Homo sapiens: one gene and its partners. The protein of the gene in region 1 interacts with the protein of each later gene in a pairwise test. Each region holds a gene or a part of one and is shown on either strand. Other genes may lie near its edges. The genes, in order: CEP70, AGBL2, C8orf33 and NEBL.

What was found.
Region 2: the proteins of CEP70 (region 1) and AGBL2 interact in binary tests that used the Homo sapiens proteins (3 or more experiments, as listed by UniProt).
Region 3: the proteins of CEP70 (region 1) and C8orf33 interact in binary tests that used the Homo sapiens proteins (3 or more experiments, as listed by UniProt).
Region 4: the proteins of CEP70 (region 1) and NEBL interact in binary tests that used the Homo sapiens proteins (3 or more experiments, as listed by UniProt).

Annotation. Positions count from the first base shown.
Region 1 is NC_000003.12:138,570,252-138,577,278, forward strand, and holds part of CEP70 (centrosomal protein of 70 kDa), read right to left. Parts: intron 2,734-7,027; exon of another isoform or gene 2,682-2,733; 5' UTR 2,677-2,681; coding exon 2,608-2,676; intron 1,106-2,607; coding exon 1,015-1,105; intron 907-1,014; coding exon 783-906; intron 276-782; exon of another isoform or gene 248-275; coding exon 67-247; intron 1-66.
Region 2 is NC_000011.10:47,684,357-47,691,383, reverse strand, and holds part of AGBL2 (cytosolic carboxypeptidase 2), read left to right. Parts: intron 1-525; coding exon 526-1,308; intron 1,309-5,334; coding exon 5,335-5,491; intron 5,492-7,027. UniProt on the Homo sapiens protein: Metallocarboxypeptidase that mediates deglutamylation of tubulin and non-tubulin target proteins. Catalyzes the removal of polyglutamate side chains present on the gamma-carboxyl group of glutamate residues within the C-terminal tail of tubulin protein.
Region 3 is NC_000008.11:145,048,464-145,055,478, forward strand, and holds the start of C8orf33 (UPF0488 protein C8orf33), read left to right. Parts: upstream 1-4,003; 5' UTR 4,004-4,028; coding exon 4,029-4,034; intron 4,035-4,122; coding exon 4,123-4,434; intron 4,435-4,598; coding exon 4,599-4,683; intron 4,684-4,833; coding exon 4,834-4,980; intron 4,981-5,554; coding exon 5,555-5,694; 3' UTR 5,695-7,015.
Region 4 is NC_000010.11:20,810,290-20,817,316, reverse strand, and holds part of NEBL (nebulette), read left to right. Parts: intron 1-1,599; coding exon 1,600-1,692; intron 1,693-3,273; coding exon 3,274-3,378; intron 3,379-4,376; coding exon 4,377-4,548; intron 4,549-7,027. UniProt on the Homo sapiens protein: Binds to actin and plays an important role in the assembly of the Z-disk. May functionally link sarcomeric actin to the desmin intermediate filaments in the heart muscle sarcomeres.

The DNA of each region.
Region 1 (7,027 bases):
ACCTGGGACCATAATGAGCTGTTTTAGTACTAACTAACCATCATCTAAGAATTCATAACTCAGTACCTGTAAAGTTTTCTGCTCCTTTTGAAGATCTTTTATTTTATTCTGTTGGTGGCAAGCCCTACTTAGTGATTCATCCTCCAATTCACCAATTTTGGATTTCACACTTTCCATAATTTGTTCCAAGTCATTAGCTCGTTGTTCTTGATTGGCTGCTCGGCTTTGCTCTAGCTGAAGTTCATTTCTAAGTTAATAGACATACAATTTCTTCCCTTAGTATTAAAAATAAATCGAATTACCAAGCATATCCATATAAGAATGTATTGCCTTTCTAAAGTTTCTTTGCATTCTCTTTATCCAAAATGCTTGGAACCAGAAGTGATTCATATTTCAGATTTTTTCAGATTTTGGAATATTTGCATCATACTTACTAGTTAAGCATCTCAAATCTGAAAATCCAAAATCCAAAATGCTCCAATAAGCATTTCCTTTAAGCATCATGTTGGTGCTCAAAAAGTTTCAATTTTTGGAGCCTTTCAGATTTTCAGATTTGAGATGCTCATCCTGCAACAGAAACTAATAGAAGAAATATAGGGTACCATTAAACATCTATGCTAAGCTATTACCAAAAGATTTACCTATTAAAATTTTACCTACAAAAATATTTTTTAGTTTAATATTTAATCAAAATGGGAAATTAAATTTCAAGATTTTTTTCAAGGCAGTTATTTTTAGAACGCATACAAACAATTCAAAAGAAATCTTTTCCATTTTCTCACCTAAGCTGTTGATTAGTTTCTATAAGCTCCTGTATCATGTTCTGTTGACATGATGTTTCTTCCACCAACAATTTCAAATTCTGTCTCATCCTTTGTGATGACTGTTTGTCAAAAATGATGAGATCTACATTTAAAAAGTATATAATACAGATAGTAAAAATAAAAGGCAAAAAAAATTTTTTAAGGAAAAATAAACTTTTTACCTTAAGCATCAAGAATAGGATCTAATTACCTTTGAGATCTGTTCTTTTGACTAGAGACAAAGGTTTTAAGCCATGCATCATCAATAGCACATTTATGCTTTCCCATTCTGCTTCTTCCTGCTACAATTACAGAAAGAGAAGAAAGGGTTAACTTTAGATATAAAGTGAAGAAATTCTCTCATATATAATTTCCTGCATTTTCAGAATAGAACTTTTTCTTCAAAAGTTTTAAGTATAAATGTTTATGCATATATAATATCCAAAAAACACATTTATTGTTTCTAGCAAAATTAGTAATAGACTAGAAGTATGTAAATAAGCACAAATTGTTGCATTATACAGAATACTCATATGTAGGCCTCAATGGACAAAACCAACAACAACAACAAAAACACCTTGTAATTTCAGTGAATCAAATAAATCTAAGGTTTTAGATTTAACTAAGCCAAACCAAGCCCTGCTCAGAATAAACAGCTGTAAACTAGGCTATAATAACTGGATAGTAAAGAAAAGAAAAGGTGAGTCACTTCTAAGTATCACTTTCTTTTTTCTTTCTTTTTGAGACAGAGTCTTGCTCTGTCACCTAGGCTGGAGTGCAGCGGTACGATCTCGGCTCACTGCAAGCTCTGCCTCCCAGGTTCACACCATTCTCCTGCCTCAGCCTCCCGAGTAGCTGGGACTACAGGCGCCCGCCACCACGCCCGGCTAATTTTTTGTATTTTTAGTAGAGATGGGGTTTCACCGTGTTAGCCAGGTTGGTCTGGATCTCCTGACCTGGTGATCCACCCGCCCTGGCCTCCCAAAGTGCTGAGATTACAGGCGTGAGCCACCGCCCCAGCCCCTAAGTATCACTTTCATAATGACTAGGGTCACAAAAAAATCAAAACATACCTGACTAGTTGGAGCCAATATTTCAGACAGCTCCTTGTCAAATGGACAAGGTCTAACTATAAAAAGGAGCCCGTCCATCTGGATAACTGACTCTAACAGAATCACCCTGAAAGACACTCTCAAAGTCAAACAAGTCTTTCTTTTTGACTGTTGACTTCTTCCTCCTTTTTTTTACATCTCCTCCCACTCATAACTTTTCTCTCATTTATGCTTTAGTCTTTCTGATCACAGAGTTTAACTACGTGGTAGACACAACTAAAATTAACATTGATGTTGTTTTAGGAGCCAAAAGCTCTGAGTTAGTGTCTCAGAACTTCTACTGTAACTCATAAAAACAAAATGCTCTATACATAATAAAGTCACATATTTTGAATGATTAACTTATACATATTGTTTCCTGATACCTCTTACATTTTAAGATAAAGTAATTGTAAATTCTGAAAATAGTTGGGAATGGCATTTTCCAAAGTACATGCTACAGAACACTAGTCTAATGAAATGTTCATCAAACTAGTGTTAAGTATGTATGAAATGCTGTATACTAAATCCTCCCTTTGGAGACTAATATTGTGAAGTCTTAGAGTAATTAAACCATTTCATAGTCTTTAACCCAGCATTTCCTAAAATTATTTGAGAAAGAATCCTTTTAAAGTCAAATTTTCCTGTTTGTAGATGTAGCATTCTTTGGCACATATTTTGAGAAGCAGTGTCTTAAAATATTTTAAGTTTACCTGTTTTTCAGTCATGAGTCTGTCTGATGGTTGACTGGAATCCTGGGGTTTAGGGGCTACCGGAAACATAGTTACTTTTGTAGAATCAAAAGAAACAGAAATTGGCAATTAAAAAATTTGAGTTGCCTAAATGAAAAAAGACAAAAAGTGCAAAAGGAGTTAAAGAAAAGTATATTTAAAAGAATCCACTACTCTTGCAGGGCAATTCAGGTCATTCCTGCGTCAAAACTTTGTGACTTCTTAGATAGCTGATTGTAAGACTCATTTGAATAAACCCTATCTTATAATGTTCTCCTCTGGAAATAAAGCATTCTGGGATTTTACACATATACCACACACACACATACACTCTGTCCTGTCTAACCCCCCACCACAGAATGCATAACTGGTACCCAAGAACAGAGGAAAGAATGGAGTAGAAGGAGCATTTGAAGAGCTAATGGCTAAGAAAAATTTGAGAATCAATGAAAGACATAAATCCACACATTCTAGAAACCCAACATATTGCAACTGGGATACAGTAAAAAAAAAAAAGAAAAAAGAAAAAAAAAGTCAGTCATACCTAGACACTAATATCTTCAATGTGCTGAAAGAAAATAATTGCTTATCTAAAATTCCAAAGCCAGTGAAAACATTCATTAACGAATAATAAAGGCAAAAGTAATATATTTTCAAACACATGACACAAAATAAATCTGAGAGTGTTCATTGCATCTGCTCTGTAAAAAAATTCTAAAGAAGCTGCTTCATGCAGAAGACTCCCTGATGGAAAAGCAGAGATGTAGAAAAAAATAGAGCAAAAAAATGGGCGAGTTTAAACACAGACTACATAATGAGATCTTGTGAAGTATAAAATGTACAATTAAAATGCACAGTAACAGAAATATATTAGCTGAGAGTAGGGTAAATGGAGTAACAGTGTTCTAAGTTTGTTTACAATGGAGGTGGACACTGGTAAAGGTATCTGTTAACACTGGGCTTTTGTATAAGTTAAGGATGCTTGAGAATTTCTAGGACATCCACTGAAGAACTGAACAGAAGTATATAATTTTCTAACTAGTAAAGGGGAAAAACAAGACTATAATGATGCATTTTTAAAAATAAACCCAAGGGCATCCAAGATGGCCAAATATGAAAGGCTTCAGTCTGCAGCTCCCAGTGTGACTGATGCAGAAGACAGGTGATTTCTGCGTTTCCAACTGAGGTACCTGGTTCATCTCGTTGGGACTGGTTGGACAGTGGGTGCAGCCCACAAAGGGCGAGCCGAAGCAGGGTGGGGCATTGCCTCACCCAGGAAGTGCAAGAGTAGGGAGATTACCCATTCCTAGCCAAAGGAAGCCGTGACAGACTGTACCAGGAAAATCCAGACACTGCTACCCAAACACTGCGCTTTTCCAATGGTCTCAGCAAGTGGCACACCAGGAGATTATATCCCATGCCTGGCTCAGTGGGTCCCATGCCCATGGAGCCTTGCTCACTGCTAGCGCAGCAGTCCAAGATTGAACTGCAAGGTGGCAGCCTGGCTGAGGGAGGGGCATCTGCCATTGCTGAGGCTTGAGTAGGTAAACAAAGCGGCAGGAAAGCTTGAACTGGGTAGAGCCCACCGCAGCTCAAAGAGGCCTGCCTGCCTCTGTAGACTCCACCTCTGGGGGCAGGGCATAGCTGAACAAAAGGCAGCAGAAACTTCTGCAGACTTAAATGTCCCTGTCTGACAGCTCTGAAGACAGCAGTGGTTCTCCCAGCATGGTGTTTGAGCTCTGAGAACGGACAGACTGCCTACTCAAGTGGGTCCCTGACCTCCGTGTAGCCTAACTGGGAGACACCTCCCAGTAGGGCCCGACTGACACCTCATACAGCCAGGTGCCCCTCTGAGATGAAGATTTCAGAGGAAAGATCAGGCAGCAATATTTGCTGTTCTGCAGCCTCTGCTGGCGATACCCAGGCAAACAGGGTCTGGAGTGGACCTCCAGCAAACTCCCACAGACCTGCAGCTGAGGGACCTAACTGTTAGAAGGAAAACTAACAAACAGAAAGGAAAAGCATCAACATTAACAAAAAGGACATCCACACCAAAACCCTATCTGTAGGTCACCATCATCAAAGACCAAAGGAAGATAAAACTACAAAGATGGGGAGAAACCAGAGCAGAAAAGCTGAAAATTCCAAAAATCAAAGCGCCTCTTCTCCTCCAAAGGATCGCAGCTCCTCACTAGCAACAGAACAAAGCTGGATGGAGAATGACTTTGACGAGTTGACAGAAGTAGGCTTCAGAAGGTCGGTAATAACAAACTTCTCCAAGCTAAAGGAGGATGTTCAAACCCATCACAAGGAAGCTAAAAACCTTGAAAAAAGATTAGATGAATAGCTTACTAGAATAAACAGTGTAAAGAAGACCTTAAATGACCGGATGGAGCTGAAAACCATGGCACGAGAACTATGTGACACATGCACAAGCTTCAGTAGCTGATTTGATCAAGTGGCAGAAAGGGTATCAGTGATTGAAGATCAAATTAATGAAATGAAGCGAGAAGAGAAGTTTAGAGAAAAAAGTAAAAAGGAATGAACAAAGCCTCCAAGAAATATGGGACTATGTGAAAAGACCAAATCTATGTCTGTTTGGTGTACCCAAAAGTGATGGGGGGAATGGAACCAAGCTGGAAAACACTCCTCAGGATATTATCCAGGAGAACTTCCCCAACCTAGCAAGACAGGCCAACATTCAAATTCAGGAAATACAGAGAACACCACAAAGATACTCCTCGAGAAGAGCAACCCTAGGACACATAAGTGTCAGATTCACCAAGGTTGAAATGAAGGAAAAAATGTTAAGGGCAGCCAGAGAGAAAGCTCGGGTTACCCACAAAGGGAAGCCCATCAGACTAACAGCAGATCTCTTGGCCGAAACCCTACAAGCCAGAAGAGAGTGGGGGCCAATATTCAACATTCTTAAAGAAAAGAATTTTCAGTCCAGAATTTCATATCCAGCCAAACTAAGCTTCATAAATGAAGGAGAAATAAAATCCTTTACAGACAAGCAAATGCAAAGAGATTGTGTCACCACCAGGCCTGCCTTACAAGAGCTCCTGAAGGAAGCACTAAACATGGAAAGGAACAACCAGTACCAGCCACTGCAAAAACATGCCAAATTGTAAAGACCATCAATGCTAGGAAGAAATTGCATCAACTAATGGGCAAAATAACCAACTAACATCATAATGACAGGATCAGATTCACACATAACAATATTAACCTTAAATGTAAATGGGCTAAATGCCCCAATTAAAAGACACAGACTGGCAAATCGGATAAAGAGTCAAGACCCATCAGTGTGCTGTATTCAGGAGACCCATCTCATGTGCAGAGACACACATAGGCTCAAAATAAAGGGATGGAGGAAGATCTACCAAGCAAATGGAAAGCAAAAAAAAGCAGGGGTTGCAATCCTAGTCTCTGATAAAACAGACTTTAAACCAGCAAAGATCAAAAGAGATAAAGAAGACCATTACATAATGGTAAAGGGATCAATTCAACAAGAAGAGCTAACTATCCTAAATATACACGCACCCAATACAGGAGCACCCAGATTCATAAAGCAAGTCCTTAGAGACCTACAAAGAGACTTAGACTCCCACACAATAATAATAGGAGACTTTAACACCCTACTGTCAATATGAGACAGATCAACAAGACAGAAGGTTAACAAGGATATCCAGGACTTGAACTCAGCTCTGCACCAAGCAGACCTAATAGACATCTACAGAACTCTCCACCCCAAATCAATAGAATATACATTCTTCTCAGCACCACATCACACTTATTCAAAAATTGACCACTTAGTTGGAAGTAAAGCACTCCTCAGCAAATGTAAAACAACAGAAATCACAACAAACTGTCTCTCAGACCACAGTGCAGTCAAATTAGAACTCAGGATTAAGAAACTCACTCAAAACCGCACAACTACATGGAAACTGAACAACCTGCTCCTGAATGACTACTGTGTAAATAACAAAATGAAGGCAGAAATAAAGATGTTCTTTGAAACCAATGAGAACAAAGACACAACATACCAGAATCTTGGAACCAACCCAAATGTCCATCAATGATAGACTGGATTAAGAAAATGTGGCACATATACACCATGGAATACTATGCAGCCATTAAAAAGAATGAGTTCATGTCCTTTGTAGGGACATGGATAAAGCTGGAAACCATCATTCTGAGCAAACTATCGCAAGGATAGAAAACCAAACACTGCATGTTCTCACTCATAGGTGGGAACTGAACAATGAGAACACTTGGACACAGGAAGGGGAACATCACACACCAGGGCCTGTCGTGGGGTGGGGGGATGGGGGAGGGATAGCATTAGGAGAAGTACCTAATGTAAACGACGAGTTAATGGGTGCAGCACACCAACATG
Region 2 (7,027 bases), on another chromosome or scaffold:
ACATATTGTTTTGCAAATTGGCAAATTTTTTTTCCACTTCATAAATTTCAGGTGTTTTTCTATGGCAGTACCATAGATATACTTCCTTATTGTTTTTGTTTGTTTGTTTGTTTTTTCCTCAAGATGGAGTCTTGCTCTGTTGCTCAGGCTGGAGAGCAATGGCACGATCTCAGCTCACTGCAACCTACACCTCGTGGGTTCAAGTGATTCTCTTGCTTCAGCCTCCTGAGTAGCTGGGATTACAGGCACCCGCCACCACACCTGGCTAATTTTTTTTTTTTTTTGTATATTTAGTAGAGATGGGGTTTCACCATGTTGGCCAGGCTGGTCTTGAACTCCTGACCTCAGGTAATCAGCCCGCCTCAGCCTCCCAAAGTGCTGGGATTACAGAGAATAAATGATTAAGGTAGCAGATTTTTCTGTTGTAATAAGACCTGTTTTTACCAGGAGAAAACAACATTTTCCCAATTTGTTTTTTAAGGCAGGGTGTAAGCTTACAGAGTTGTTCTATTTTCTCCATTACAGAGACACCTATGAGTATGAACTCACCTTGCGAACTGACCTCTACACTAACAAACACACTCAGTGGTTTTATTTTCGTGTTCAGAACACCAGAAAAGATGCTACCTATCGCTTCACCATTGTCAACTTGCTAAAACCCAAGAGTCTTTATACTGTAGGGATGAAGCCACTCTTGTACTCCCAATTGGATGCCAACACCCGCAATATTGGCTGGAGGAGAGAAGGAAATGAAATCAAGTACTACAAGAACAACACGGATGATGGGCAGCAGCCCTTCTACTGTCTCACGTGGACCATTCAGTTTCCATATGACCAGGACACTTGCTTCTTTGCACACTTCTACCCATATACATACACTGATTTGCAATGCTACCTCCTGTCAGTGGCAAACAACCCTATCCAGTCTCAGTTCTGCAAGCTCCAAACTTTATGCAGGAGCCTAGCAGGAAATACCGTTTACTTGCTCACCATCACCAACCCATCCCAGACCCCTCAAGAGGCAGCTGCAAAGAAAGCTGTGGTCTTGAGTGCCAGAGTTCACCCTGGAGAAAGTAATGGCTCCTGGGTTATGAAAGGCTTTTTGGACTTCATCCTTAGCAACTCCCCAGATGCCCAGCTCCTCAGAGATATTTTTGTCTTCAAGGTGCTTCCCATGTTAAATCCAGATGGTGTGATTGTGGGGAATTATCGGTGTTCCTTGGCCGGAAGGGATTTGAACAGGCATTATAAAACCATTCTGAAGGAGTCTTTCCCTTGTATTTGGTACACCAGGAACATGATCAAAAGGTGAGACTTTTTATCTGTTGATCTTTCTGTGACTGCTATGAGTCCTAGCACCAGATATCCCTACCTGATGGGGTATGAGGTCTCTTCTGTTGTTAAAGGAATTGAGTATGACTTTGGAGACAGAGCCCTTACCAGTCTCTTTGTAGTCAAGTGACTTTGTTAATTTTCAGACTTTTAAATCATGTCTTGTCTTTGGGTTGAAACTGGACATGCAACATTTCAGCAAGAGTCATTTCACTTGTAAGTGAAATAATTGAATGGAAAAGGTCAGAGTTCAGGGGAGTTCATAGGTCTTCATGATGAGACTTGTATCATAATAATAGTAGCTAACAATTAGTAAATGTGTATGCATGAAGTGGCAAGCTGTATGGTAGGTGCATTACACACATGACTCATTTAATCTTCACATTAACATTATGAGGTAGGCACAGTCAATATCGCATGTTGTATGATACAGAAATTGAGAACCTAGGCCAGGCGTGGTGGCTCACGGCTGTAATCCCAGCACTTTGGGAGGCTGAAGTGGGCGGATTACCTGGGGTCAGGAGTTCAAGACCAACCTGGCCAACATGGCGAAACCCAGTCTCTGCTAAAGATACAAAAATTAGCCAGGCGTGCTGGTGGGTGCCTGTAATCCCAGCTACTGAAGAGGCTGAGGCAGGAGAATCGCTTGAACCAAAGAGGTAGAGATTGCAGTGAGCCAAGAGCGTGCCACTGCACTCTAGCCTGGGTGGCAGAGTGAGACTCCATCTCAAAAAAAAAAAAAAAAAAAATTGAGAAGTGGGTAGGTTAAGTAACTTGCCTAAGGTCATAAAGCTATTAAGTGACAAAGTAGATATTTAAATACAGGCTCTCTCTCTGGTTCCAGAGTCTAAATTCCTTTTACGATCTTATATTGCCTATCACAAAGAAAGAATCATAACATCAGTCAGCAGTTTTCAAGCCTGTATAAAAGCATTGAAGGCTATAATGTAATAGCACCCACCTTAAAGGAATTTTCATGCCATTGGAAATGAAAATACAGCATATAAGAATATGTGGGCTGGGCTCAGTGGCTGACACCTGTAATCCCAGCACTTTGGGAGGCTGAGGCAGGCAGATCACCTGAGGTCAGGAGTTTGAGACCAGCCTGGCCAACATGGTGAAACCTCGTCTCTACTAAAAATAGAAAAATTAGCCGGGCATGATGGTGGGTGCCTGTAATCCCAGCTACTCAGGAGGCCGAGTCAGGAGAATCACTTGAACCTGGGAGGCAGAGGTTGCAATGAGCTGAGATGGCACCATGGCAGGCATAGCTAAAGAGCATATGTTTCAGAGTCAGACAGGCCTGAGTTTGAGACCTGTTTTTACTGCTGGCTGGTTCTGTGACCTTGGCTAAGTGATTTAATGTGTCTGAGCTTCAGCTTTCTCATCTGTAGAGTGGAAAAATAATACCTGCCTTGGGTGGTTACTGTGAGGATTGAGATAATCACATGATCTATTTACTATAGTACCCAGCATATTATAAATGTGTAGCATTGTTGTTATTATACTCATCATGGGGAAAGTGAACATATTTGGAAAGCTGGAATAGGTGTCCTGGGTGATCATGAGACAAAGAAGAGCTGAGCCTTGTAGGAACTGGCCCTCGAAAGTCAGGAATCAAGGCTTTCTTTGGTTCTTTTTCTTTCCTGCAACTGCCCACTCTCTGCCTCCCTCTCTTTCTTCACAGGTCTGCACCATGGTGAGCTTTTTCTCAATAGGCTTTTTTGCACTTCCTTGTCAACTTACGCAAGGCTACCCACCACCCCTTTCCAAATCAGAACTTTTCCATTTCTGGTCAGGCACAGTGACTCATGCCTGTAATCCCAGCACTTTGAGAGGCCGAGGCAGGAGGATCACTTGAGCCCAGGAGTTGGAGACCAGCCTGAGCAACACAGTGAGACCCCGTGTATTAGGTTGTATTTGCATTGCTATAAAGAAATATCTGGCCAGGCGTGGTGGCTCATGTCTGTAATCCCAGCACTTTGGGAGGCTGAAGCAGGCAGATCACTTGAGGTCAGGAGTTTGAGACCTGCCTAGCCAACATGGTGAAACCCCGTCTCTACTAAAAATACAAAAATTAGCCTGGCATGGTGGTGCACGCCTGTAATCCCAGCTACTCAGGAGGCTGAAGCACTAGAATTGCTTGAACCTGGGAGGCAGAGGTTGCAGTGAGCCGAGATCACGCCACTGCACTCCAGCCTAGGTGACAGAGTGAGACTGTGTCTTAACAAAAAAAAAAAAAAAGAAAGAAAGAAAAGAAAAAAGAAAGAAAGAAATACCTTAGACTGGGTAATTTATAAAGAAAAGAGGTTTAATTGGCTCATAGTTCTGCAGCTTTACAAGAAGCATGGTGCTAGCATCTGCTCAACTTCTAGGGAGCCCTCAGGAAGCGTACAATCATGGCAGAAGGCAAAGAGGGAGCAGGCACATCATATGGCGAAAGCAGGAGTAGGAGAGAGAGAATAAGTGTAGGGGAGGTGCCACACTTTTTTTTTTTTGAGACGGAGTTCATTTTTTTTTTTCAATTTCACATACATTTATTGAATATTTACTGTGTGCCAGGCACTGTGCTAGCAGCCAAACTAAATATTCTTTAGTTTCAATGAATAATTGATAACGGGAATGTTTTTCCATCATTTCTAGTATAAGTGGGGTTCTTTTTCATTTTTAGTAGAGAGCTATATTTTTGTAGGACAAAACATATAATACTGTCCCCTCTGTTGATATTAAGTCAAATATTTTATCTGTTCAGTCAAAGCCCAGTTCTGGTGTTAATGGGCCTGGATTTAATTAATTAAAGGATTAACTTACTGTATCATTACCTGTGTGCACCAGGCACCCTTCTGAATTGCAGACAGCATGTAGGAAGATCTAACTAAACTTTATTTTTTTTTATTATTTATTTATTTATTTTTTTATTATTATTATACTTTAAGTTTCAGGGTACATGTGCACAATGTGCAGCTTAGTTACATATGTATACATGTGCCATGCTGGTGTGCTGCACCCATTAAGTCATCATTTAGCATTAGGTATATCTCCTAATGCTATCCCTCCCCCCTCCCCCCACCATTTTTTTTTTTTTTTTTTTTGAGATAGAGTTTCACTCTTGATGCCCAGGCTAGAATGCAATGGCGCAATCTCGGTTTACTGCAACCTCCACCTCCTGTGTTCAAGTGATTCTCCTGCCTCAGCCTGCCAAGTAGCTGGCATTACAGGTATGCACCACAACACCTAGCTAATTTTGTATTTTTAGTAGAGATGGGGTTCACCAGGTTGGTCAGGCTGGTCTCGAACTCCTAACCTCAGGTGATCCACCCACCTCAGCCTACCAAAGTGCTGGGATTATAGGCATGAGCCACCGTGCCCGGCCAGTGTCACACATTTTTAAACAACCAGATCTTGTGCAAAGTCAGAGTGAGAGCTCATGTATCACCAGGGGATGGCCCAAGCCACTCATGAGGGATCCACCCCCACTATCCAAATACCTCTCGCTAGACGCCACCTCCAACACTAGGGATTATATCTCAACCTGAGATTTGGGCAGAGACAAATACCCAAACTCTATCACCCTGCCTCTACAAAAAAAAAAAAAAAAAAAAAACCAGAAACAAAAATAGCTGGGTGTATTGGTGTGTGCCTGTAGTCCCAACTACTTAGGAGGCTGAGGTGGGCGGATGACTTGAGCCCAGGAGGTCAAGGCTACAGTGAGCCATGGTCAGGCCACTACACTCCAGCCTGAGCAACAGGGCAAGACCCTGTCTCAAAAAAGAAAAAAAGAAATTTTCCATTTCAAGTCCTTCTGACTGGCAAGGCAAGCTGATGACATGTTTTCTGCAGTGGCTGAGAATGGAGATAGGGTCCATTGAAGGCCAATGGAGTTGAGATTTTCTTAGGAGGGAAAGTATTAACAGCTGTATTTAAGGAAGAGATACCAAATGATCCTTAATTATTTGTATGCATTTGGGTGTCCACTGAGTCCTTTGTTTGCCCCCTCAATAGACTTCTTGAAGAAAGAGAGGTTCTGTTGTATTGTGATTTCCATGGCCACAGTCGTAAGAATAATATCTTCCTGTATGGCTGTAATAACAACAATCGCAAATACTGGCTTCATGAACGAGTCTTTCCTTTAATGTTATGCAAAAATGCACCAGATAAGGTAAGCACATAATGTAATTTTCTCTCCATTGAGTTAGGGACATGGGAACTCACTGCTTCCTATATGTAGTGTTTTATTTGGCATTTTGTATCTCTTTTTATTATCTTTGGTAAATCCGAGCAACCTAGACTTCAAGAATTTAGAAAAGCGTGGTTTTAAGAATTGCTGTGGGGCCAGGCACAGTGGCTCACACCTGTAATCCCAGCACTTTGGGGGGCCAAGGCAAGCAGATTACCTGAGGTCAGGAGTTCGAGACCAGCCTGACCAACACGGAGAAACCCCATCTCTATTAAAAATACAAAAAGTAGCCAGGCATGGTGGCACATGCCTGTAATGCCAGTTACTTGGGAGGCTGAGGCAGGAGAATCGCTTAAACTTGGGAAGCAGAGGTTGCAGTGAGCAGAGATCGTGCCATTGCACTCCAGCCTGGGCAACAAGAGCAGAACTCCATCTCAAAAAAAAAAAGAATTGCTGTGTCCTGCCAGCTACAGTGGCTCATGCCTGTAATCCTAGCACTTTGGGAGGCCGAGGTGGGCATATTGCTTGAGCCCAGGAGTTCAAGACCAGCCTGGGCAACATAGGGAGACCCCTGCCACTACTAAACAATAGAATAAAAAAGAATTGCTGTGTCCATCAACCAATCAACAGATAAATAAAATGTGGTATCCTTTTTTATTTTTTTTTTTGAGACGGAGTCTCGCTCTGTCGAGGCTGGAGTGTAGTGGTGCAATCTTGGCTCACTGCAACCTCTGCCTCCCAGATTCAAGCAATTCTCCTGCCTCAGTTTCCTGAGTAGTTGAGAGTACAGGCATGCACAACCATGCCTGGCTAAATTTTTTTGTACTTTTAGTGGAGACGGGGTTTCACCACGTTGGCTAAGCTGTTCTCAAACTCCTGACCTCAAGTGATCCGCCTGCCCCGGCCTCCCAAAGTGCTGAGATTACAGGCGTGAGCTACTGCGCCCCTCCATAAGTTGAAATTCTTGCATATACAGTTATCTATCACCTATCCTGTGGTGGTTGACCCTGGAAGAAGAGATTGAAGGACAAGCAAAATGCTAATGTCATGAGTCTTCATAGGAAAGGTTATATACTAGAAGATCACAAATAATTGTAAGATATTAAAGAGCTTAATGAAAACAATATAAAAGTTTTTAATAATTGACTAATTTTGTGACAGGCATATACAGGTAATCTTCATTGGTGTAGAAGCTGGTTTTTCACATCATAAATAGATCCACAAAATGTAGCTTTCAGAAGAAGAAAGTAGATTGGATTTTTATTTATTTATTTATTTATTTTACTTATTTTTTTTTCTTCTCCTTATTTTTTTTTTTTGAGACAGAGTCTTGTTCTGTCGCCCAGGATGGAGTGCAGTGGCGCGATCTCGGCTCACTGCAACCTCCATCTCCCAGGTTCAAGCAATTCTCTGCCTCAGCCTCCCGAGGGTCTGGGATTACAGGCACCCGCCACCACACCCAGCTAATTTTTGTATTTTTAATAGAGACAGGGTTTCACCATCTTGGCAAGGCTGGTC
Region 3 (7,015 bases), on another chromosome or scaffold:
TGTTTGGTCAGAATCCAACCCTTGTTATACATCAGCAGATTCACATTGGAATGAAATCTGATAACTACAGTAAATGTAGGAAAGTTTTTTTGTAGATTCATAGCCCCTGCAGAACCTAAGGCAGTTCCAGGTAAAGAGAAACCCTATGGGTACAGTGAATATGGGAAGACCATACAGAATTCATACCACTTTCTGGATCAAAAAGAATCAAAGAAGAGACAAAGCCTATGAATCTCATGCATGTGCAAAAACCTTATATTATGTGTCAAAACTTATTAAGTATCAGGGTATGTAGTCTTTAATAGTTTAGAGCCTGTTCAGTAGCAGAAAATCCACTCTATCAATAAACTTTATGAACATAAATACTGTGACAAAGTCTTCAGGCTAATTTTAAGTTTAAAAAATCAGGCTTTATCATAGAAAAAAATGAGAAAAAAATAAAAGTAAAATGTGATCCAAACTTGTAATTATGTTAATGGAGACACAGTATATATAAACATATTTAGATATATGTTTTCTTTCTTTCTTTTTTCTTTTTTTTTTTTGAGACTAGGTCTTTCTCTGTCACCCAGGCTGGAGGGTGGTCGTAGAATTTTGGCTCACTGCAACATCCGCCCCTGCACCATCCCCCTTCCCACCGCTGCCCAAAGCAATCCTCCTGCCTCAGCCTCCCAAGTAGCTGGGACCACAACCGGCTAATTTTTTAAATTTTTTGTAGAGACCATGTTGCCCAGGCTGGTCTCAAACTCCTGGGCTCAGGCAATCTGCCTGCCTTGGCCTCTCAAAGTGCTGGGATTATATGCGGAGCCACTGTGCCCAGCCTGGATATCTGTTTTCTTAAACTGTGTCCTTCAAGGTCAGGGTACTTCTCTTGTTCTTTCACCGTACCCATCCCATTGCCTTATTCATTCAGCCCCTTAATAAATATTTTGGTGTGATTTGCTAACTATGGAAAAATCTTTTCTGAAGACTCATGTTTCCTGCCACAAGAGGAACCATAGAAAATATAGCACTGGAAAGGCAACAGTTCAAATCCAAGGTTATTCATGATTACATCAACCTACAATTACTGTGCAGCCCCTATGTGCCTGGTAGTGTGCCTGACAATGGCAAATCAGAGATGCAGAAACACTTGGCCTCTTTTCCTCATATCTCTCAGTCTAGTTGGGATACAAAGGTATGTAGAGACAGATAACCACATCAGTACAGTAATAGAGGTAAGAATACAGGGTTGAGTGGGGTCCCAGAGGTGGGAGAGGTCTACAGAGATGGCTCATTTTCAAAATTCTGAGAGACAATAACTGTTAACCTCAAATTGTGTTTCTATCCAAACTATCCTCCAGGAATTAGAATAAAAATAGGCATTTTCAGATGAGCAAAACCCAAAACACCATAACAGATTTCATTAAAGGAGCTTTAAAAGGATGTACATTTAAAGAAATGATATCAGAACTGAGATATAAGGAATGATGCCAGGCATGGGAGGCTGAGGTGGGAAGATTGCTTGAGCCCAGGAGTTCAAGACCAGCCTGGGCATCCTGGTGAGACCCCATCTCTACAAAAAATTACAAAATTAGCTGGTATGATGGTGCATGCCTGTGGTCCCAGCTACTTGGGAGGCTGAGGCAGGAGGGAGGATCAGTTGAGCCCAGGACAACCTAGGTGACAGAGTGAGACATGGACTCTAAGAAAAACAAAAGTTGTATATTTGAAAACACTGACTGTAAATAGAATTAAGTCTAATATGGCAGATTTAAAAACAAAGATAGAAATGAAGTCAAGACAAAAATAGCATATGAGTCAGGAAGGTAATGGATAAAATCAGAGCATTGAAAGTGAGGCAGGATAGGTAGTCAAGGAAGTAACCATGTCCTCGGGATGCAGCAACTGTTGTGACTGTGCAATCAGCACAATAAGCCTCTGCCTTCACATTGTGGTTAAGCTCTTTCAAGCAAAACTATCTTCAGTAGAGAATTTCCCCTGCAAAGAGCATGTACATTTTGATTTTACCTGTCCTCAGACTGACCTTTCGCTCATTATAATAGTAAAAAACAGAGCCCTGGTTGGAGGTTTAAGATGCTAATAAGACATGTGACATGTACGAACAATCATATACCAGCATGTAGAACAAGCATTGTATGACAAGAAGCATTGTATGAACAAGCATGTAAGAACATACAGCTACCGCACATGTGCACTCAGAGGACCATCCAGAACATACTCACTAGTAGCACCTCTTCCCAATTCCTTATGAATAATCATGTAAGACCCCCATAAAGGGAGTCTCCCTCATGCGTCTTTGCTGCCCCAACCTTATGAGCAGCTGGCCCTCAATCCTCTCTCTCTCTCTCAGGGTGTACTGTCTATTGTTCACTTAACTTTCCAAATATTCTTTCTCCTTTGTAATAAATTACTGTATGCCGCATCTCCTTTACTGCGTGTCCCGTTTAAATTCTGCGTGTTTTTTTTTTTTTTTTTTTTTTAGATGGAGTCTCGCTCTGTCACCCAGGCTGTAGTGCAGCGGTGCGATCTTGGCTCACTGCAAGCTCCACCTCCCGGGTTCATGCCATTCTCCTGCCTCAGCCTCCCGAGTAGCTGGGACTACAAGTGCCCGCCACTATGCCCGGCTAATTTTTTGGTATTTTTTAGTAGAGACGGGGTTTCACTATGTTAGCCAGGATGGTCTCAAACTCCTAACCTCGTGATCCGCCCGCATCGGCCTCCCAAAGTGTTGGGATTACAGGCGTGAGTCACCGCGCCCGGCCAATCCGCCGAATTTTGGGAGTAATGTATCACACTGCAGTAAATAACTATCAGTGATGACCAAACTGTAACCCTTCGAGACCTTGCAGACCAGGCAGCTAACACTTCCCACCCCACCGTCTCAGGAAACACCGCTTTCCACTCCTGTGTCCCCGAAAGGAATCATCAGACATCTCGGACTCTTACCTTCTCAAGCAACACAACCCACCCTCCTGGCATAGCCCGTTGCCCCCCTGAAACCCTACTCAGCCTCACCTCAACCCCTACGCAATTCCTCTCGGTTGTCATGCCTCCATCGGCGGGGGTCGAGTGTTGTGTGTGACCCCAGGTCTCTAGCAAGGTATAGTGGGAGGGAAGCATCCAGGGGAAGAGAGGTGGTGGGATGGGGCTCTCCCTCTCCCCCATACCGCCACCCTCCCTCACGTCCATATCCTGTCCAAGGCTCTTCCCGCGTCTGCTTCTGAAACCCCTCCACGTCCCTCCACCCCATGTGCCCCACTCGTTACACAAGAGCAGAGAGATCTGCAGAACATACGTCTACGATTATGCCACTCTTCAGATTTACATCTTGCAGCGACTTCCCACTGCGTTAGAACGGAAGTAAGCCCATGACGGGGGCCCTCCCAACTCTCAGACCTCACCCGAGCCTCCACGTCCCGAGACGCCGGCCTCTCAAACGACCGCGCCCTGACCCTCGCTCTTCCCCATTTCCCAGGGTCTTTGCCGACCACCCTCTTGCGCCGTAGCTGCTCACGTGCTGTTTACTTGCTTTTCCCTCCCCACCAAAAGGTGAGCCTTGAGAAGACACACCCTCGTGGAGAGCTTTGAACTTTTATCCGGAAAGGTGCCGGGCACGTAGTCAGCGCCCGCGATCACTCGCTCACAAGGGTTCTTCCGAGACCCCTCTTCAGCCTCTTCCCCGAACCCCCAGGCCCCGCCCCAGCCCCATCTCAGCTTCGTCCCAGGCGCGTCCCAGCTTCGCCCCGTCCCAGCTTCATCCCACCCCAGCCGCGCCCCGCCCCGCCCGCTCCCCGCCCCGCCCGCGCCCCGCCCGCGCCCCGCCCCGCCCGCGCCCCGCCCGCGCCCCGCCCGCGCCCCGCCCGCGCCCCGCCCGCGCCCCGCCCGCGCCCCGCCCGCGCCCCGCCCGCGCCCCGCCCGCGCCCCGCCCGCGCCCCGCGGAACCTAGAGTCGCAGGCGCGTTCTTGAAGGACGGAATTCGGCGTCGGACTCTGCGCCCCGCGTAGTTCCGGTGGCGACTGCGGCGCATGGCGGTGAGCGGTGTGGAGAAGACGCGCGGGTGGCTGGGCCTTGCATTGTTGGCGGCTCTCGGTGACCCTCGTGCTACCCCCCTTTCTCCAGGCCCTGGGACATCTTGCTGGGGAGGCAGCGGCGGCCCCAGGCCCGGGTACTCCCTGCGCGTCCCGCGGAGCCCGGCTTCCCGGCCCAGTTTCCAGCGCCCGGAATCCTTCCACTGTCTGTCTCTGCCCAGAGCAACCTACGTGCAGTAACGCTGACTCCAGAGCGCACCCGTTGGGCGATGAAGGCGGCACAGCGTCGAAAAAACAAAAGAATAAGAAGAAAACGCGGAACAGGGCCTCTGTGGCAAATGGAGGCGAGAAGGCCTCAGAGAAACTCGCCCCAGAAGAAGTTCCCCTAAGCGCTGAGGCCCAGGCAAGGGCGGGCTTCGGTCGGGAAGGGTGGAATCCACGGGTGCGAATCCACGGGCACGTGTGATCTGGGGTCCGCGGAGTTAAGGCGGGGAGGGGCATGGGATGGGGCCGGCGGCTATGGTTTTCCAGTGCCCTCTCACAGCCACTTCCCCAAATCCATCACAGGCACAACAGTTGGCCCAGGAATTGGCTTGGTGTGTGGAGCAACTGGAGCTGGGCCTCAAGAGGCAGAAACCCACCCCGAAACAGAGTAAGGGACCCTTCTGTAGAGCTGGGGGATGTGAACAGTGGCACTGCCTGGCCTGCAGGTGCTGGCAGAGTATGGAGTTGTTGGCTTTGCGGCGGGGTGGTAGGAGGTCAGTAATAGAGGTGTTCACTAGTCCTTTATTTTTATTCGCAGAAGAGCAGGCTATTGGAGCAATCCGAACCCTGCGCAGCAAAAGAACGCCCTTGCCCCGGAAGAGGCAGCTGATGCACTCCTTGTTTGGAGACTATAGGGCTCAGATGGAAGCCGAATGGCGTGAGGCCCTGCGGGCTCTCAGAGCTGGTGAGGAGCTAGCCACTGGTTGATTCAGGAAGGCCTAACTTAAGGAGGAAGTGTCTAGGGGGTGAAAGGAAGAAGGCCCAGAGCAACAAGCCTGGTGGGGGAAGGAGATGGGCTCAGGGAAGCCTGAGGGAGCAGGGAAACAGAAAGCGTGGACCTCTCTTTCCTCTTCCTAGGACTGAACCTGGGAAGCAGCGGGGAGGCCCTGGGAGGAGTGGGAAAGAGCATGGTCCTATGTTGGTCCTGCTCCTGGGTTGGGGAAAGCTGCCTCATGTCTTTGTGTCTTGGCTTTCTCTACTAGCAATGAAGCCATATCCCATAACAGTTTGAGTGCAATTCCTGGGGCCAGATCAGCTAGGTTCAAATCCTGGATCTACCACATAGTAGTACTAACACCTTTTGCAAACTACTGAACCTCTCTAAGTGGGGGATGATAGTAATATCAACCTTACAAATTTGAGGAATTAATCAGTTAATTTATGCAAGGTGGTTAGAATTGTATGGGCAAACATAACTGTACAGGTAATGTTAATTGTTATTATTCAGTTCTGACATACGCTGCTTCTCTCCCCGACAGCTGCTTATTCAGCCCAGGTGCAACCTGTAGATGGAGCCACCAGAAAGAAGAGCCAAAGGGTCTGCAGGCCTCGCTCTATATGGAGAGCCAAAGCCACTCTGGACATGCCTGATGAAGAGTTTAGGTTCAATTTCTTTTAGCGTCTCCCCGAACCTGAAACAATCCCCCTCCCTTGGGGTGGTGTAGGGGTTTGTTTTGAGTGCAGAGCCTTTCCAGGACTTCTGTTGTCAGAGAACCCTGGAGTTGGTCTGTCCCTGGCTGGTCCAAGGATTTGTAGCTGTTGTGAAGGTGTGAGACCATCAGATAGGCAAAAGACCCCGTTCGTTTTCTGATGAAATGTTCTCTCTTTCAGAAGAGAGAGAGAGGTGCATTTAGAAAATATGCAATAAATTGAAGTGAGTGTTCAAAGTATTGTAGAAGGAATATTGTACTCAGTCTTTAGGATTAGATTAAGTGGCTGTTGGTAACAAAGATTAGTGGAGAAGCTGTATAATCGTACACTGGTTTTCACTTTTGAAAGGAATCCCTGTCAAATGGTTTAGTGCTTAATGCTGTTATGTCATATTGCCCTAATCTCTATTTTTGATAAAATTGGATAAGGAGTGAAAGAGTATGCTGACCACCTATGTTAGAGGAAGTACAGAAGATGCAGGGGTGTGGTATCCCTGGGTCCAGTCCCTCACCTGGTACCTTTGTGCATGTTGCCTTCATTCCTGAGCAGGTATCATCCTCAGGGAACCAGCATGGCACCTACCAGGCCAGGCTCTGTTCTTAGGAGCAAGGAGCTTCTTGCGCTAACAGTTCTGGCCTGAGACCTGGATTGAGCCTTGGCAGACTTCTTGTCTAAATGTTGGCCATTCAGTCTCAGGCCCTCTGTTCCATGGAATTGGGAATCTCCAGGTGACCTAATCCTCATTGGTGGCTTGATGTTTGCTGGTATCTTCCAAACTCAGTTCCCAGACTAGATTGATACCTGGAGCCCAGCTGCCTACTCAGCATTTCCACTTGGGTGCTTCATAGGCATTTCAAACCTGATGTGTTTAAAACACTTGATTAGGCTCCGGTTTTCCTTTGGCTTCTGCTTTTCAGTGAATGGCATGACTGCCTATGTGGGTGGCAAGCCACCCAGGTGCCGAGGAAAGAGACTGAGGGCACGAGCTGTTCCAGTATAATAAAATATATAAAATAAGAAGAGTTATACTAGATCTAGATCATAGACATGATTATATGTGAGTATCATTAATCATTAGTTTATAGCAATTACTCTTTATTCCAATATTATAATAATCCTCACTCTACAATCATAACCTAGGAAAAACCAGGCCATACAGAGATAGGAGCCGAGGGGACATAGTGCGAAGTGGCCAGAAGACAAGAGTGTGAGCCTTCTCTTATGCCCGGACAGGGCCACCAGAGGGCTTGGTCTAGCAGTAACACCAGTGTCTGGGAAGATGCCTGTTG
Region 4 (7,027 bases), on another chromosome or scaffold:
TGACTCACTGCAACCTTTGCCTTCTGGGTTCAAGTGATCCTCCCAGCTCAACCTCCCAAGCAGCTGGGATTACAGGCACATGCTGCCACACCTGGCTAATTTTTGTATTTTTTGTAGAGACGGGGTTTGGGCTGGTCTCAAACTCCTGAGCTCATGCAATCCGGCCACCTTGGCCTCCCAAAGTGCTGGGATTACAGATGTGTGCCACCGGGCCTGGGTGACTTTTTTTGACAGGTTGTTGTGTATCCCTTCTATCTTGTCATCTAGCTGATGGGTGCTATGGTCTCCTCAAGTCCCACAGTCGTAGCTTCTGGCATCCTGGCCCTACAAACAAACATTTTCCCTCCCTTTTCTACCAGCATGTGTTCCTGTTCTTGCGCTTCCTCCGAGCCCCACTTTCCACTTCCCACAATCATGACTCCATTTTTGGGCAAAGTCTAGGAAGAAATGATAATGTGTGCATGGCTGAATAGGTTATATTGGACAGGACCATTTTGGGGGCACTTAATAAGGGGCTGGCAGTTTTTACCTAGACACCAACTTGTGGCCTGCTCCGATTCCCTGTTGTTGAAATAATTCACGGATGCAGTTCAAGAAGAAAGTCCTCTTTTACAGTCATTAACATATAGATTGGGTTCTTTGGAAGAGGAAACTTGGAAATCTATTACGTTCAAAGAAATCTTTTATTCTTCACACCTTTAAAGTCATTTTACCAGTTTATAATGCAAAGGCAGGTGATTGATACTTTTCCTAACAACTATATTTTAGAGAAGTAGACGCTCATCTTTCCCCCATATATTTAGAGTCATACTTGATGTGACTCCATTATTCTCAAAAAGGAACATGGTTATTTAGACAAGGAGTGGACCAGTGAGAAGCATGCTGGCTTTTTAAAGGATGCCCACAGTCACCTATTTAAACACATCTTTACAAAAATTCTGCCGCAGTTAATTCCTAAGAAACCACGACCATGTAGTACCAGTCTACGGTGAATACCTTTAAGTAATCTCCATGAAGACATTTATTCTCATTTCCTTTTGTGGTTAAATATTTATTACAGCTTTACGGATGGTATGCCTATGTATTCGAGTACATCCACAGTGATTTGGACACATGTACTCTCTTATGGGATGAAATGAAATAGATTGATTTAAGATGCCAGCATTTTAAATACAACTCAACCTCTGAAAATATTTTTTGTAGTTTCCTACAAAACTTCCCTGACTAACTCATTAAAATAAATACTGTGAGCCAGGCACTGTGGCTCAGGATTGTCATCCCAGCACTTTGGGAGGCTGAGGTGGGTGGATCACTTGAGCCCAGGAGTTTCAGGTCAGCTTGGACAACATGGCAAAACTCAATCTCTACAAAAATACAAAAATTAGCCAGGCATGGTGGCAGGTGCCTGTAATCCCAGCTACCTGGGAGGCTGAGGTGGGAGGATTGCCTGAGCCTGGGAGATCGAGGCTGTGGTGAGCAAAGATTGTACCACTGCACTTCAGCCTGGGTGACAGAGCAAGACCCTGTCTTAAATAAATAAATAAGTCTCTTTGTTGAATTGATTCATAGTATTCTATTTTTTGTTCTCTGAAATGATAGGTTTATTACAGAGGTCAGCTGGGAAGAGCTACCACTTTAAGTGTAACTCCTGAAATGGAAAGAGTGAAGAAGAATCAAGAAAATATTAGCTCGGCAAGTGGTTTTCTTCATTTTAGACTATCACAAAGGATGTGTCTTTTATTATTTACTTGCGGTCCTCCTTTGCTTGTGAAAATAAAACTTATTTTCAAGAAACATTTGTGATGTGTCCAATAAGTACATGTGTTATTTCAGATGACTTCCAAAAGCTGCCACTGCAAACATTTACATTATTTTGCAACTCTTTGTTATTTCCAGATGTGACCAACAGTTACATTCAAAGCTTAGGTTAAAATTATATTCATTTAAACAACGATTCATGATATGTTAGCCGTGTCTTTGAAGGTGGTAAAGCCTTTGATGTGTGCGTTAAATAATTGTCATTTTCCTGAAATATTTCATTGAACATGGATTGTTAAATGCTGTCTGCAAAACAAAATAGGAGATGGATCATTACCCCCACTAAAGACTTACAGAAAAGAATCCTTAAATACAGTTAACGTAGAATTCAGTTGCTCACCAAAGTCCAGTGGTGTACATGAGTATCTTATCTGAATATTGTGCTTCCTCTTAGTGAATATCAGGGCTTCAATTCTGAATTGTACATAATGCCCTCAGGTCCACAGTAAGTGGTATCCATATCTTACACCTAATCAGTTTCATAAATGGCGGTGTTCTGATGGGCAGTTGTGAAGAACACAGGCCCTTTTCTTAGCATACCCTGAATAGCTGTTTGCCTGAGAATCAGCATTTAGGCTTTGCAATTTACAGCTTCCTAGTGACATTTCTGTCCAGAGATGCTGTGTGTATTTAACATAAATTACCTTTAAGTTGTGGCTGCTTAGAAGAACAACTAAATTTGTTCCTCATTGTTTCTTATTCCCTAAGCAGAGAAAAAAATAAAAAGAAATAGAGTAGCTTGTATGCATTTTTTAACACTCTTATGGTAGAAAATTGGGAAATTTAGAAACAAAATAACTTTGGGTTCTATTTAATAGTTTTGGATTTTCTCTGTTTAACTTAAATATGATAACCAGTTGTGTGTGTGTGTGTGTGTGTGTATGTGTGTATGTGTGTGTTTGAGACACAGTCTCTGTTGCCCGGGCTGGAATGCAATAGCACAATCATAGCTCATTGCAGCTTTGAACTCCTGGGCTCAAGCAGCTGTCTTGTCTTAACCTCTCAAGTAGCTGGGACTACAGGCACACGCCCAACTAATTTTTTTTTTTTTTTAATTTTTACCTGTAGAGATGGGGGGTTTCACTGTGCTGCCCAGCCTAGTCTCAAATCCCAGGCCTCAAGTCATCCTCCCACCTTAGCTTTCCAAAGTGCTGTGATTACAGATACGAGTCCTCGGGCTTGCGCAGGTTTACAGACTAGATAGATAGTTACTATTGGTCATTCACACATTTGTTTAGAGTTGATAGATTTAGGTCATTTAGCAGTAGGCGGTGGAGGAGATCTTTGATTGTAAAATTTTAGGTTGCTATTCTAGAACAAAATTTAATTCACTGAAATAGTTACCTGGAAAATAATTTCAAGTATGTTGCATATGTTTCACTCATTTGTAAAGCTTAAAAATGTTACATCATGTGTTTTCTTATCATTGTCTTATGCCTACTATTTACTTTGCAGGTAAAATATACCCAGGACCATAAACAGATGAAAGGTAGACCAAGTCTGATTTTAGATACACCTGCTATGAGACATGTTAAAGAAGCACAAAATCATATTTCAATGGTAGGGTCCAACCAGATCATTCTTAAAACATGCTAAGGAATGGGCGGATCCAGTGCACGGATGGCATTACTTCACTATTAATCCGATAACTAACAAAGCATGGAAATGTGGTTGGCTTGTCTTTTGAGGGAGGGGCATTTCTAATCACACTGAAATGCAGTGGAAACATTTAGTCTAATAAAATGATTTTTCTCAGTGACTTTTTCTGGTGTGTCTTTATTTCTAACGTGACTACTGTAAACTCATAGTGTGAAAGATATTTGTGTAGACTTCTTTCCAATTAATTCTAAGACAAAATTTGGTCTGTTTGCCTGTCATAAAGGATATGAAAAGAAGTGTGTTTTTAAAGCTGTGTTTTTAAAAATGTGTGTTTTAAAAATTATATTATCAGATGTAATTTACCTACCATAAAGTTTGCCCATTTAAAGTGTTCAATTCAATGGTTTCTAGTATAATTTACAGTTACACAACTATCTCCTGGACCTAATTTCAGGACATAAAAAAAGTATATTTTGAAGTATAAGTTTTTGTAATTATATTAAAAGTGGTATATATTGTTACCTATAAAATTTCAAACTGATTTTAAATAATGCCATTTTCATGAATGATTGCCTGGAAATAGATATCACTTTATTGCATACTGAAGTTGAAGAGATAGGAAATTTAATTTATATTTAAATTAGTATATTTTAGGAAGTAACCAGGATTTGAGAATATGTATTTTTACAAGCTCTCATTAATAATATATATATAGTTTTATATATAATTTAAAATAGATATGAGCTATAATGATTAAAAACTTTGTGAAAATATCAGCACTTGATTTCTGATGCTAAGAAACTGAAGTTCCAGACTTTAGTTTTGGAGTATTTGGAAAAGATACATACATGTAGACAATCTGCACGCAGCCAGTGCAGTGTACACCTGTCATTTAATAAAAATGTTGTGAAAGAGGTAACTATCCGCAAAATTCAGTATGATGATTTTTCCTTTTTCAGGTAAAATACCATGAAGATTTTGAAAAAACAAAGGGGAGAGGCTTTACTCCCGTCGTGGACGATCCTGTGACAGAGAGAGTGAGGAAGAACACCCAGGTGGTCAGCGATGCTGCCTATAAAGGGGTCCACCCTCACATCGTGGAGATGGACAGGAGACCTGGAATCATTGTTGGTAAGCTGACGGCGTTTGTCGGCCGGTGTGTGTGGTCGAAAAGATCATGCTTGCTCTAGCTTCAGAATTACCCTCTTGAGTCATCTGACTCCTCATCACATGTTGGTTGTGGTACCCAATTTAAAATGGACCGCAGGTAAAGTATTATTTTTGTACGATGTGGAATGGGATTTCTGGCATTCACCTGGTATCATCTCAAGTCTTTTCTATTATTGGAAGCTCTGTCTTTAATACCTTGCTAATTTTAAGAATGTTCCTCCTTGTATCACACACCAGGGCCTGTTGTGAGGTGGGGGGAGGGGGGAGGGATAGCATTAGGAGATACACCTAATGTAAATGACGAGTTAAGGGTGCAGCACACCAACGTGGCACATGTATACGTATGTAACAAACCTGCATGTTGTGCACATGTACCCTAGAACTTCAAGTATAATAATAATAAAAAAAAGAATGTTCCTCCTTGTTAAGCAAAGAAGCAGCAGAGATATGAGTGATCACAATGGTTGAACAATTACTTTGTTTTTCTTTAAAAAGAAAAACAAAATAATTGTTTTTCTGCTTGGTTGACGTGTTGTTCTGTTGACCTCATGTGCATAAGTGGCAGAAATAACCATATTGCGTTTAGGTCCTTTTATCAAAAACAGACACGCCATGGGCGTTCTGATGGTACTCCATAATAGTAATAGCTCATTTTAAAAATATTATTTCTGGACTGGAATAGTTGAGAGCCATCTGAAAGTCTTGCAATTAAGAGAGCAAACTTTTATTCCTGCTATCTGTTCCTTATAGTCAGGAGAAATCCTAGAAGGATATTTGTTGAATGGTGGCTGAGATATCAGAAAAGATCATACTGAAGTATAAGGCAGGGCTAGGAAGGATGATTATTGATTTTTCAGTCTGTATCAACAACTGAAGACTATTGTCTCCTTCAGAGCAGTTAACCTCTGAATTATGTAGTTACGTAGCTTAAAGAATATTTTTGGTATATGCCACTCAGTAATATCAGTGTTAGGTTTTCTTCATCTTCAAAAGTAGGAGCTTATTTTTTGGTACTAGTGAAAGGCCATTTAGAGATAAGCTAAATTTGACAGGGTAATGTCTTTACAAAACCAGGGTGCTAAAGTCAGAGCAGCACTAAGTAACTTGGATGATTATACTAAAGTGACTCTGGAAGTATTTTCTGAAGAAGGATTCCAAACATGTTTGTAGGCAATTGATAGCTTTGCTGATCTGCCTGAGTTGATTACTTAAAAGGATCACATTAAGTTGGATGGATGAGTTGTGATGTTTTCATTCAATGTGACACCAAATTAGAGTTTCATTGCTTTGTGCTAAAGGGATGGAACTATCTTAAGGGATAGTGCAGGGGTTCTGATTTATCTCACTTAGGGTGGAACTGCTAAAGTCTGTACAGCTTACTTCCAGGCCCTGCACACATCAGAGGTCAGGAATGATGGTGAGGTCGTTGCTAAAAACCATGAAACTGTCTAGACCGTGGGCTCTCAGAATTCAGTACTCAAAACCATTGAGGTTGAAATTATGATTGTTTTATAAAATATAAGATGTATGACTCTAAGTTATTTACTTACTTGGCAATCCAGAAGTCAGTTTATTTGTTCTTATTGGGAAGAACTGTTTTCCATTGAAATTTCCATAATTGGCCAACATTAAACTTTCCAATGAGCCAGCTTCTGTATCAGGCATGAAAATACACGTTTAGAGATTTTCTGAGTAATTCAGATTAAGCCAATTTGTGCTGCTTCTATTTTTGTTGGAGGCTCTGCTACTTCTTACGAGCTGTGTAACCTTGGCCAAGCTACTCAATTTCTCTGTGCCTCAGTTTCCTCATCTACAAAATGAGGATAATATGTATGAAACTTAAATTAATTAGGTGTTAAATGAGAAGAGTGCCTGGCATATGGTCAGCACTACATAATATTAATTAAAAACAGACAAGCAAATTTCCAGTTCCATTTTACAAATTAATTGTTTTTGCTGTAGCCCCATTTCTGCCGTATGTCTATAACTAGGTTTTTCTTTTCCAGTTGTTGGTACAGCTGTAAACAGCTTATTTTAGGATCTGATGCCCTTTTGTTGGAGAGACTGGTGAATTCAGAAGTTATTAAAATAAGAGGAGAATAAAGTGGTTTGCACAGTCTGATCACTGACTATGGCAGGGATCCATTGACAGCAGGAAGCTGATATTATTTCTCTTTTCATTCATCATATTTCCTTGCTGTGTGCCTTGCTTATAACACTTTTTAAATAAGTGTATCTAATAAGATATGCATTCCCTAAGATACACTTAGCTTGCACTCACAGACTCAGAATGAAAACTAGGCTTGCCACCATTCCACATTTTAAATATTCATTTCTGTTATAGAAAGGGACTTTTTTTTTGTTTGTTTTGTTTTTTAAACATAAACTTCTCAATTGTTTCCTATGAATTACTCACATGTCCTGAATCAGAAACTATAAT